Regions from separate parts of the Homo sapiens genome. Here region 2 is linked to region 1. The links come from fine-mapping of genetic effects on gene expression. A gene starts in region 1. The other region holds a variant in brackets. All regions are shown on one strand. Distances are from middle to middle. Region 1 holds the start of GABBR2 (gamma-aminobutyric acid type B receptor subunit 2). Region 2 overlaps GABBR2 (gamma-aminobutyric acid type B receptor subunit 2).

Evidence for each region. PIP is the estimated chance that this variant, and not a neighbour inherited with it, causes the effect.
Region 2: its variant is the best candidate, but not a certain one, in a credible set for the expression of GABBR2 in lung (TOPMed, PIP 0.69).

Annotation. Positions count from the first base shown.
Region 1 is chr9:98,706,935-98,712,298 of GRCh38, reverse strand. It overlaps GABBR2 (gamma-aminobutyric acid type B receptor subunit 2), which reads left to right and starts at 3,364. Exons shown (of 19, transcript NM_005458.8): 1 at 3,364-3,882. The coding sequence starts at 3,562. RefSeq lists enhancers at 1,978-2,272, 4,025-4,595, 5,167-5,364.
Region 2 is chr9:98,536,434-98,541,797 of GRCh38, reverse strand. All of the region lies in intron 3 of GABBR2 (gamma-aminobutyric acid type B receptor subunit 2), which reads left to right. Among named protein-coding and RNA genes, the nearest start is that of GABBR2, 170 kb to the left of the region's middle. The variant G/A (reference allele first, on the strand shown) is at 3,113.

The DNA.
Region 1 (5,364 bases):
ATGCAAACAAGATAATAATTTAAGCCATACAGACCTGGGCTAACACGGATGTTTCATTACTTCCTGGAGGTGCAACCTGAGCACGTTGCTTTCTAAGTCTCTATTACATCTCTTAAAAGGTAGATGAGTTCAAGGGAATCAAGTGTTTTCCACATTCTGGGACTTGGCCAATGCATTTTATTCCAATTAATAAGAAGCACAATGATTAGCCAATTCTCATCCTCTCTTCTGCTTATACCCTGGCCTGGCCACCAAATGTGCTTATTGTAGTAGAGACTCCTAACAGGTATTCCTGCTCACGCTCTTTTCCCCTGCTAACGGTTCTTCACTCTACAGCCAGAGTGATCCTCTTAAAATACATCAGATCATGTCACTGCTCCACCCAGTAGCCTCCCACGGTTGCTGTTTCATGTGCCCTCCCAGTGCTGAGGCCCCATACAGTCCTACCTGCCTTTGACCTTGGATCTGATTGCTTTCCCTTTGCCCACTCTGCTCTACCACATTGGCTTCCACATTGTTCCTTGAACATGCCAGGCACACTCCTGTCTCGGAGCCTCTGCCCTTGCTGTTCCTCTGCATGGAACACTATTCGCCTGTCTCTCTTACTTACCTTCTTTATGTCTTTGCTGAGGAGTCACCTTAGTGTGTCTTTCCCTGACCTCCCTATTTCAAATTGCAGCCCCACTCTGCCAGTCTCAATCCTCTTTCCTGCTTTTTTGTTCACCATAGCACTTTTCATAAATGGGCATACTAACATATCTTCTTCTTCCTATTTATTGTTTCTCTTTCTCCACTAGAATGTCAATTCTACAAGGGCAGGGATTTTGTTCTGGTTTTTTCCTTCCTATATCATCAGCTCCTAGGACAGTGCCTAGCAGGTAGCATGCCCTTCAAAACACTGGTCAAAGGAATGAATGATTATTATAAAGCAAGACGCTGGACCCCAGCTCTGGAGGAACATGCATTCTAGGCTGGTGACTGAGGCAGGAACTCAGACTCAGGAAGCACATCAGGGATGCAGTTACCCAAACTGTAATACCAGGCCAGAGTAAGATCTTGGAACCAGAGGGATGCCCAGGCATTAGGAGTGGGCTGTGAGATCAGAGATTGGCCTGGAGCCATGCTGATGGAGAGTGAGATTGGTGCCCCCTGGGTCAGGGCAGATCCCAGGTCATGCGTCTTGGGGCCAGGTCACCCCACCATAAAAGAAGACAGAGGGGCTGTAGGGCAGGATGCCAGGTAGGGCCTTCAACCCCTTAGTAAATGTCAGGCAAAGTTACCCAGCTTTCAACTTATTCCCAGATGTAGGTGTCAGTGGACACTCTATATTGGCACAGCTTGCAAGGAGGACACAAATGACTAAAGGAAAGAATTAGAAAAAAGAAAAAAACCAAGTGAAAATGTTCATTCAGAAACCTGAGCTAAGGGTTTGAGGAATGGCAGGTGCCAGAAGACTATGACTGGAGGATATTTGTGATGTCAAGTGAGACAGCAGTTGAGCGAGTATCTGGGGATTACACTGTCCTTTGGACCATTTCTTTCCCTCCCTCCCTTCCTTCCTCCCTTCCTGGAGGAGATGCTCAGGTGAGTTCTGTTCATGCAAACCCTCCAGCTTGGGGAAAAGGAAATGCCAAGTGGAGCCGGGAGAGGTGGAGTCTATAGAAGCCTGGAAAGAGAAGTTAGGGCAGAGAGAATTTGGCCTGGTTTCCCTGGCGCTGTCCAAGGTACTCTCTAGTAGTTCTGCTCAGCCTCCACTCACATCTTTGTGCTTCCTAACAACTCAGCCTGGATTCAGAGCTGCCCTTGCCTCACTCCAGTAGAGCTGGTGTGTGGCCATCATCATCATCATCCGGTCCAAATCCCTCACCATATGCCGGAGGGAATCGATGTCCAGAGCAACTGAGTCAGGGCAGTGCTCCTCCTGGAGAGGAAACTTGCAGTCCCACATCCCTGGCTCCCACTGCACTGTGCACGGAGTTCCTGCTGGCTCTGGGTTCCGGTCCTTCAGTAGCTCTGTGTGCTTCCACTAGCTACAGAACCTCTCTGAGCACCAGTGTATTCGCCTGTAAAGTAAGGGTGAGTAACACAGTATGCTTACAGGGCAGTTGTGGGGATTACATCATAAGGCACACAGTAAGTACTCAGCGAAGGTCAAACTTCCATTCTTGTTACAAGGTCGTCGATATCTTCCACAGTCCCTGGTTCAGGCTCAAGTATGTTTTGTGATTTGATGTCCTACTGTGTTCCTCGCATTAATCAGCCCCTGGGACTTTATAGATTAATGATCACGTTTCCTATTCTTGAAGTATGCAGAGGCACAAGGAACCCAAGGTCTTAGGTCAGCTCACTCGGGTACATCTGGCTCGGGACTGCTTTGGCTAAGATTGGCCAGTGCGACCTGGCAGAGAGAGGGCCAAGTCCAGGGGCGCGCGGCCCCGCCCTGGCCTGAGGATAGTGCTCCCACCCCGGGAGACTTCTAGGGCGGGGCCCATCAAGAATGGGGACGCGGGGAGGTCAAATGCCTGGAGGGGGCGGTAGCGCACGTAAGGTTGGGACCCCAGCTTTGCTTGGGGTTGGCAAAGGGCGGTCGCTCCGTCTGGTGGGGAGGAAAGGGGTGTCCTCAGCCAAGGCCCTAAAGGCCGGGCAGCCTGGCACCAACGGGCGTTCGAGCACCCGTGGGCGTCTTCAGCGACCCCCGGGACTCGGTCAGGGGCTCGTGGGCGCCAGAAAAGAACGGGAGAGCGTAGGCTGCAGATGCCTCTGGGACGCCTTCGTGGAACATTCTCCTGCCCAGACCTTCCCGGCCAGACCTCCGAGAAGCGGTTCCAAACCACCGTGCAGGTGCTACAGGCAGCGCTCGGCGGAGCGGCGGCGGCCACTGCGTGTGCCAGCGCGCGGTCCCGGTTCCCAGATCGCTGTCCCCGGGCGCTCTGGTGCCTGGAGGTCAGCGGTCGGCGGGCAGCGGCAGCTGGCGCAGCGGAGGGCCGGGGGCGCGTGTGTGCGTGTGCTGGGAAGGTGGCCCTCCCCGCGGCCGCCGCAGCGCCAGCGCCTCCCCCTCCCCCGGCGCGCACGGCTCGTCCCCGTCCCTGGAGGCGGCCCGAGCCGCCCCTGAGCAGCCTCGCCTTCGCCTCCCGCGTTTCCTGCCGTCCGCCCTCCCCCGGCCGAGCTCCAGGGGCTGCCGCCTAGCAGCTCCCGGCGGGAGAGCGGTTCAGAGCGCGCACGGGGGCGGGCGGAGGCGGCCCGGTGCGGGGCGGCCGCGCTGGAGAGAGGCGCGCGCGGAGACGCCGGCCCCCCTCTCCGCGTTTGCTCGCTTGCTCCCCGCCTCCCGCACTCCGCTCGCTCCCACCCCTTCCCGGCGTGATTGATCCGTCACGGGCGCCGCCGCTGCCGCCGCCGCCGCCGCGGCCGTTCTGAGCCGAGCCGGAACCCTAGCCCGAGACGGAGCCGGGGCCCGGGCCGGCGCCATTGCGCGGGCGCCGCGGGAAGACCTTGGCGCGGGGCGGCGGGCCGGGCCAGGCCATGCGGGCCGAGTGAGCCGGCGCCCGCAGCCCGCGGCGCGGCATGGCTTCCCCGCGGAGCTCCGGGCAGCCCGGGCCGCCGCCGCCGCCGCCACCGCCGCCCGCGCGCCTGCTACTGCTACTGCTGCTGCCGCTGCTGCTGCCTCTGGCGCCCGGGGCCTGGGGCTGGGCGCGGGGCGCCCCCCGGCCGCCGCCCAGCAGCCCGCCGCTCTCCATCATGGGCCTCATGCCGCTCACCAAGGAGGTGGCCAAGGGCAGCATCGGGCGCGGTGTGCTCCCCGCCGTGGAACTGGCCATCGAGCAGATCCGCAACGAGTCACTCCTGCGCCCCTACTTCCTCGACCTGCGGCTCTATGACACGGAGGTGAGTGTCCGGCTGCCCCTGCCGTCGGGGCTTCGGGGGGCATTGGGGTGGGTGGTTTGGACACAGGCAACCTCCGGCCTTTGGTCAGATCCCCGATTGACCGGCCCGCGCCTGCCGAGGGCAGAGAGGGCTGGTGCCCAGTGTTCACCCCCGCGGTCCTGCTGGGCTTGGCTGGCACAGCTGGTAACATTTGCCAAGCACCCCCTCCTCTGGTCTTATGTGTGTATGTGTGTGTGGGGAGGGGTGGGGGTGGGATAGAAGACTGGGGTCTCTTTTGACCAGAGAAAAAGGAGTGGAGAAGGTGGGGGCTGGACCCCCAAAGGCCTACATTGATTGTCCCTGTCCAGGTCCCGCTCATGGGGCTGCGAGGTACCGAGTGGGAGGAACAGGCGCATTGACTGCAAACTGGGCCACCCAGGGCCGGAGGGGCCGCGGGCCTGCTCACAGGCCCCCAGGGAAGCCGAGCCGCGCTTTGAGGTCCGGAAGGCTCCGGAACCCAAGGGGCTTGAGCGTGCAGCGTGGCTGGGCGCCTGGTGCGCGCCAGCAGCTCTGAGCCCGCTCCGCGCGGGCAAGTGTGGGGCCACCGGCTCTGCAGCGCTTCTGCCTGGACGTGCCCGGCGCTGCCTGTGGCCAGAGCGATTTCAGGAGACCCCTGCCTCGGGTTAGTTGCTCAGAAAGTGCCCTGGCAGTTCTCGTCCCGGACGTGCAGTGGTGTCCGGCCGCGCCGCTGCTGTTGGCCGGGCGGCTGCAGGCAGTTTCTCACGGCTCAGGCTTGAAGCATCCGACCTAGCAGCCGGAGCACAGACTTGGAGAGCAGTCCGGAGCGGAGCCAGAGAGCCAAGGGCTTTCCATCCCAAGACCCCTCCCCACGCCCTCGGTTTGGGTTCTGCCTGAAGCCCCAGAGCGGACCTTCACCGCCAGGCCGGGGCTGGAGCGCGCGGAGCGGGTCTGGAGGAGCGATCGCTGGCCGCGCAAGGTCGGGTTTGCGAGTTTTTCCGGACCGAGCGAGCCCCTGTGCTCCGACCGCAGCGTCTGAGACGCGGCCTGAAGGGGGCAGTGATTTCCTGTGCAGTACGCTCGGTTGGCGCCTCTTCCATCGCGCGGAACGGGGCCGAGGCGCTGGGCTTGATCCTGGCTTCCTGGGACTCTCCGGGCGCTTCTGCTGGAGTCCAGGTGCAGAACCCTTTTGGGAGGAGGGTCGCGCTACTGCTCTGGTGGTGCAATCTGGGCTTCCCCTCCTCCTTGGTCGGACCCTCTTTATGTCCCCAGAGAAAGAGCAGAATCTAGATTGTATCTTATTCCCTGCCTCCCCCGCTTCACCGGTGAACCAGCTTGCTCTGCGCTGTAAATAAAAGGTGAAGGAACCGGTGGCAGTTGGCAGCGGTACGCGCAGGCTGCTGCAGGCGGAGAGGCGTCCTCTGCCCCAGAGGATGCAAGCTGGCTGGCTGTGCAGGGCTAACCCGGTGTGAAATCATTTCCGAA
Region 2 (5,364 bases), 170 kb after region 1:
TCAGGGATGGGTACTGTCACAGGGCTTTTAAGCATGTGTTGGTTAGTGCGATCAAAGCTGTTTCACCGTTGACAAAATAGAGCTGGTAGCTGAGGAATTTCACTGTGCATAGGACTGGTGGAAACCATCATCAGGAGTGAACCTTCCCTTTCATTCTTTTTATTGGCTACCTCGTGTGGCTTATTCCCTCAGTGGCCCTGTGGGCTTGTCTTTGTTACTGATGCTGTCGTGACCATCTAAGATCACAAAGTTCTACCAGGGGGTGTGTTCATCTGTGAGGAGAGTTTTGGGGAAGGGCTGGCTTGGACCGAAGATGCCAATGTCACCTTGGATGGGGTACAGAGTTTTGTTTGTTCTAAGTGACTTACAAACACACCTTAATATATGGTAGGCAATTTTTTTGTTTTGTGTATGTGTTTTGTTGTGGGGGAAAAAAAAGCCAAAATATGGGTAGTAAAAAATGTAAAAGTGTTGCTTTGTCCTAAGCCACCTGAATCATGCTTTCTCTCTGAAAGTTAACTCCTGCTTTCACTTAGGGGTTCATCTGCCTAGAACTTTTTCAATGTATTTGTTTTAAAGCCAAATGACTTCATATCATGTATGTTTCTTTTTTCACTTTACAACAGATCTTAGAGGTCTTGATTAACCTCATGGTTTAAAGGGACCTGGTGTTCTGTCAGATGGGTATATCGTAACTTACCGAGCCAGCCCCTCTGAACGTTGACCACTTTTCAATGGGACAACCATACTCTCATGGCTAGGTGTGCGTCTTGGCAGTAGACTTCTAGAAGTGGATTTGCTGGGCCATTTAAAAATTTGAGAAGGACTGACTTCCAAAAAGGCAGTTCTAATTTCTAGTCCCACCAACAGCATTTGAAAATTCCCATTTTCACATATCCTTACTAACAGTGGATATTAACAAATATTTGAAACATTAGCCTCACTCAGATGAGTACAAAATGGCCTCCTGTCTTTTTTCCCATTTGCTTTGTGCCTCCTCCTCTCCTTTCTATTCCCATGTGTGCTTTTGATACTTGGAGCCTCCAAAAACACAAGACAAACCAAGTGTTCTTAGCAGCCCAAGAGAAACAAACTTTAGCCGTGTGGAGGATTTCCATGTGTGAGTCAGGGGTCTAGACAGACCTCAGCCGGAGCGGTGGGGGCAGACACACAGCCTCTTGCCAGCCTGGGAATGGGGAAAGGCCGGGCAGGGTGGCAAGAAAGTTGGGAGTAGAACAGGGCTGGTAATCAGCAGACCTGGTTTCCACTGCAGCTCTGCACTTACCTTCTGAGGTTCTTGCCCCCTGTCTCTTCCATGGGAAGGAGAGACCACTTCATACATTGGCTGTGTGACCTTGGAGACGTTACCTTGCTTCTCTGAGCTTCGATTCCTCCCCTGTAAAATGGGGACAATAACTTCTTGCATGCCTCCCTGCAGGGCTTCTGCCAAAATCCAATGAGTAATGGATCTGAAAGAGCTTCGTAAACTGTAAAGTTCATACACAGAGAGGGTTGTTTTTGGAGGTGCGTGAAAAGTGGAAGTGTTTGGCCCCACTGTCTGTGGGTATCCAAACAAGGCAAGCTTTTCCCAGGCAAGACTGCTCGTCATCTTCCCACCTCTCTGTTTCTCAGCCCCTAGGAGGAGGCACAAAGGGAACTTGACCTCCAGCGGGAGTGACTCATTGCCAAACGCTGAAGAGGCTTTTGCTGAAAGGCCGCCTTCATAGAGAAGCGAGAAATGTTCTAAAATGAGAGTGAAACAAGTGGATGGTGGAGGATAAGAAGGACCCATCCCATGGCCCCATTAACACTGGACTCTACTAGGATTTAGAGAGACTTGCTTTTTCCTTTTTCTTTTCTTTTTCTTTTTTTTTTTTTTTTTTTAGACGAAGTCTCACTCTGTCACCAGGCTGGAGTGCACTGGCGCAATCTCGGCTCATTGCAACCTCTGCCTCCTGGGTTCAAGCAATTCTCCTGCCTCAGCCTCCCGAGTAGCTGGGACTACAGGCACGTGCCACCACACCCAGCTAATTTATGTATTTTTAGTAGAGACGGGGTTTCACCATATTGGCTAGGATGGTCTCGATCTCTTGACCTCTTGATCTGCTCACCTCAGCTTCCCAAAGTGCTCCCAAAGTGGCATGAGCCACCGGGCCCGGCCAGACCTGCTTTTTTCTAATAGCATCTTTGGCTGTCAGAGCCTGAAGGACCCTTAGAGACATATCTCCTACCCTCCTCATTTTGTAGAAGGGGAAACTAAGGCCCAGAGAGGGAAGGGGACAAAGTTCAAGGTTTCAAGGCACCTCTGAAGTCATGAAAGATTGTTCACAGAAAAGTCAGGACTAAATTTTGGGGTCCTGAACCCCTCAGTTCAGACTTCCCATTTCTCCTTCTTTTCTTCTCTAGCTTCCTGGAATTGCATAGGAACTACCTGCATATAGCCTAAGAGGTTTGAAATTCCCACCAGACTGGTTCTAAAGGGGGTAAATTGTGAGCCCTGACATTGGTTGTGTGCCTTATAGATTCCCAAAAACTCTCACAGACAGCCACCCTGTAAGGAGGAGTGATGGTTCCCATTTTACAGATGGGGAAACTGAGGTTTGCAGAGGGTGGGAGGTCTCTTGCCCCAGGGCGCATGCTGGTAAAGAGCCCAGGCAGGGCTGGAAGCTGTACCCTCAGGCTGTTGCTGTGTGTCCTCGCTACATGGTCCTCACTGGGTAATCTCAGGTCTTGACTGTTGGGTAGCACATCTTTCCCCTTGCACAGCCGTGTCGGGGCCCTCAGCCAGGGTTTCAGGGCATCTCAGTGGGAAACCTTTTTTCCCGAGGACAGGATGCTGCTTGCTGGTATTGCTGGCAAGGACCTCTCTTGATTTAAATCTCTCAGCCCAGCTGACTCCTCTCTGTGCCCAAGGGCTTTGGCATCCCTCTCTCAATGTCTGGGCTGCATCGCTGGAGTGCAGGCCCTGGAAACTCGCCAGGGGCTAACAGCTTTTCATGAGTGCAAAGGAAACTGGATTCCTTTTATGAAACTGGTCGATCAGCAACGTCAAGCACTTCTGTTCCGGACTGGTGCACTGGAAGGAATGTCAAGTGAAAGAAATCCTGAAGTC[G/A]GAGGGGGTGGTGGAGGGGCTTTACTCCCACGGAGCTTATTACTGTGGCATTAGGACTATGGAAGCGGGTAGAAGGCTGAGGGCCATCCCACCTGGGGACCAGCTGCTCCTGTGAGCACCTCCAACCTCTGAGTTTCAAGGTAAGCCCATGGTAACCCAGAGGCTGCTCAGGACTTGGGTCTGAGGTACTGATCTCTAGGCCCACTTTGGCCAAGCATGGCTGCGTGACCCCAGGCAATTCACTTTCCCATGCTGACCCTAGGATGTATCAGATCTAGAGCTGCTGCTGGGACCAGGGTTCCATGGAGAGAATTGGCTACTGGAAAGTTTCAGCTTGCTCTGCCATGCCCCCTCTGGATGAAAGATGTAAATGAGACAAAAGAAGGAAGGATTTGGTACCAGGTGGGCTGATCTCTGAGCCCATCCTTGCTAAGTGATGGCTGTGAGATCCTAGGCCTCATAGAGATCCACTTTTCCCTTGTGTAAAATGGGGCTATTTATCCTACCTTGCAGGTACTGAAGATGAGATGGTTAAGTGAGAAAACAGAAATGAAAGATCTCTGTGTAGTAGGTGCTCACTAAATAGCCATTTGCTTCTCCAGTGATTCATGGGGCAAACTGAAAATGCAGGCCCATTCACTCAAAAAATCAGTGTGGCCTCCTATGTGCCATGGTCTGTGATGGGCCCTGTGCTGTGGAGGACCAGAGATCAATGACACAGCCTGGGGGTGAGTGGTGAGGCTTCCTGCATTGTGTTCTCAACTCTGGCTGCTCGCTAGAATCACCAGGGAAATTTTGATTTTAATACAAAATAAAATGTACATTTTTGGATTTTCTTCCATTTCCTTTTCTTCACTTTTAATAGCCTTATTGAGATATAATTTACATACCATACAGTTCATCCGTTGTTAATGTACAGTTCAATTATTTTTTATAAATTTTTTATGTTGGCCAGGTGTGGTGGCTCACACCTGTAATTCCATCACTTTGGGAAGCCAAAGTGGAAGGATTGCTTGAGCCCAGAAGTTTGAGACCAGCCTGGAGAACATGACAAAGCCCTGTCTCTACAAAAAAAAATACAAAAATTAACTGGGCATGATGGTGCACACCTATAGTCCCAGCTACCTGAGAGGCTTGAGCCCAGGAGTTCAAGGCTGCAGTGAGCTATGATTGCCCTACTGCACATTTTAACTTGGGAGACAGTGAGACCCTGTCTCAAAAAAAAAAAAGTATGTGTTTGTGCAACCATCGCCACAATCCAGTTTTAGAACACTCTTCATCACTCTAAAAATTCCCATGTGCCCATTTGTAGTCAGTTCCACCCCCCAGCCCCAGGAATAGTTTTACCTTTTCTGGAAATTTCATATAAATGGAATTAAAGAACACGCAGTCTTTTGCGTCTGGCTTCTTTCACTTAGCGCAGTGTTTGAGGCACATCATGCTGTGGCATGTGGCGGTGGTTTGTTTCTTTCTACTGCTGAGTGGTAATCCCTTGTATGGATGGAGCATCTGGGGAGCTTTGAAAATCCTGATGCCCAGGCCATCCCCAGAGCAACCACACTGGACGACCCTGGTGTTGGAGCCTGTCCAAGCTCTCCAGGTGGCTTCAGTGTGTCGCCAGCGTTGAGAACTCACGTCCTGCGTAATTGGCTCAGAGTCAGGAGCTCAGGGTGGAAGTGACGCCCTCTGGTGGTGGGAGACCTTGAGCTCAAAGTAGCCCCATTCTACCTGGTGGCCTCGGTCTACTTGTGGCCCTCAGCAGGCCTGGGGACTGAGGAGCAGGATGGAGAAGGTGGAGGGAGGCCTTGGTCCAGTGCTGGGGGCCCTGCCAGATGGAAGACAACAGTAGGGGTGTGAAGAGTTGGGTGGTCCACGAAGTCTGTGTTGGAGAGGGATAGGCAGGCAGGTAACCCGTGTGCACATTGAGGGGCTGCGGTAAGGAACTGGAGGGTTGTTGGGAGGCTGTGGACAGAGCCAGAAGAGGGGCATAAGTACCGAGAGTCCAGACCCTGGTGATGTGTGAAGACCCATTGTGGCATGGAGGTGCAGGTCACTGGAATTTAGGGCAAGGAGCTGAGAGGCCAGAGTGCTGAGTGATGTCACATGGGCACTGCGGGCCCAGGAGGGAGATAGGGCTTGGGGTGGAGATGAAGGCAGTGGGCAGGGGATGCCTAGAAAGACAGCAGAGGGAGGCAGAGACATTTGGGTCTCTCCCCCTTTTCAAGTCTTATGGTCTACCCAACCATCCTCAC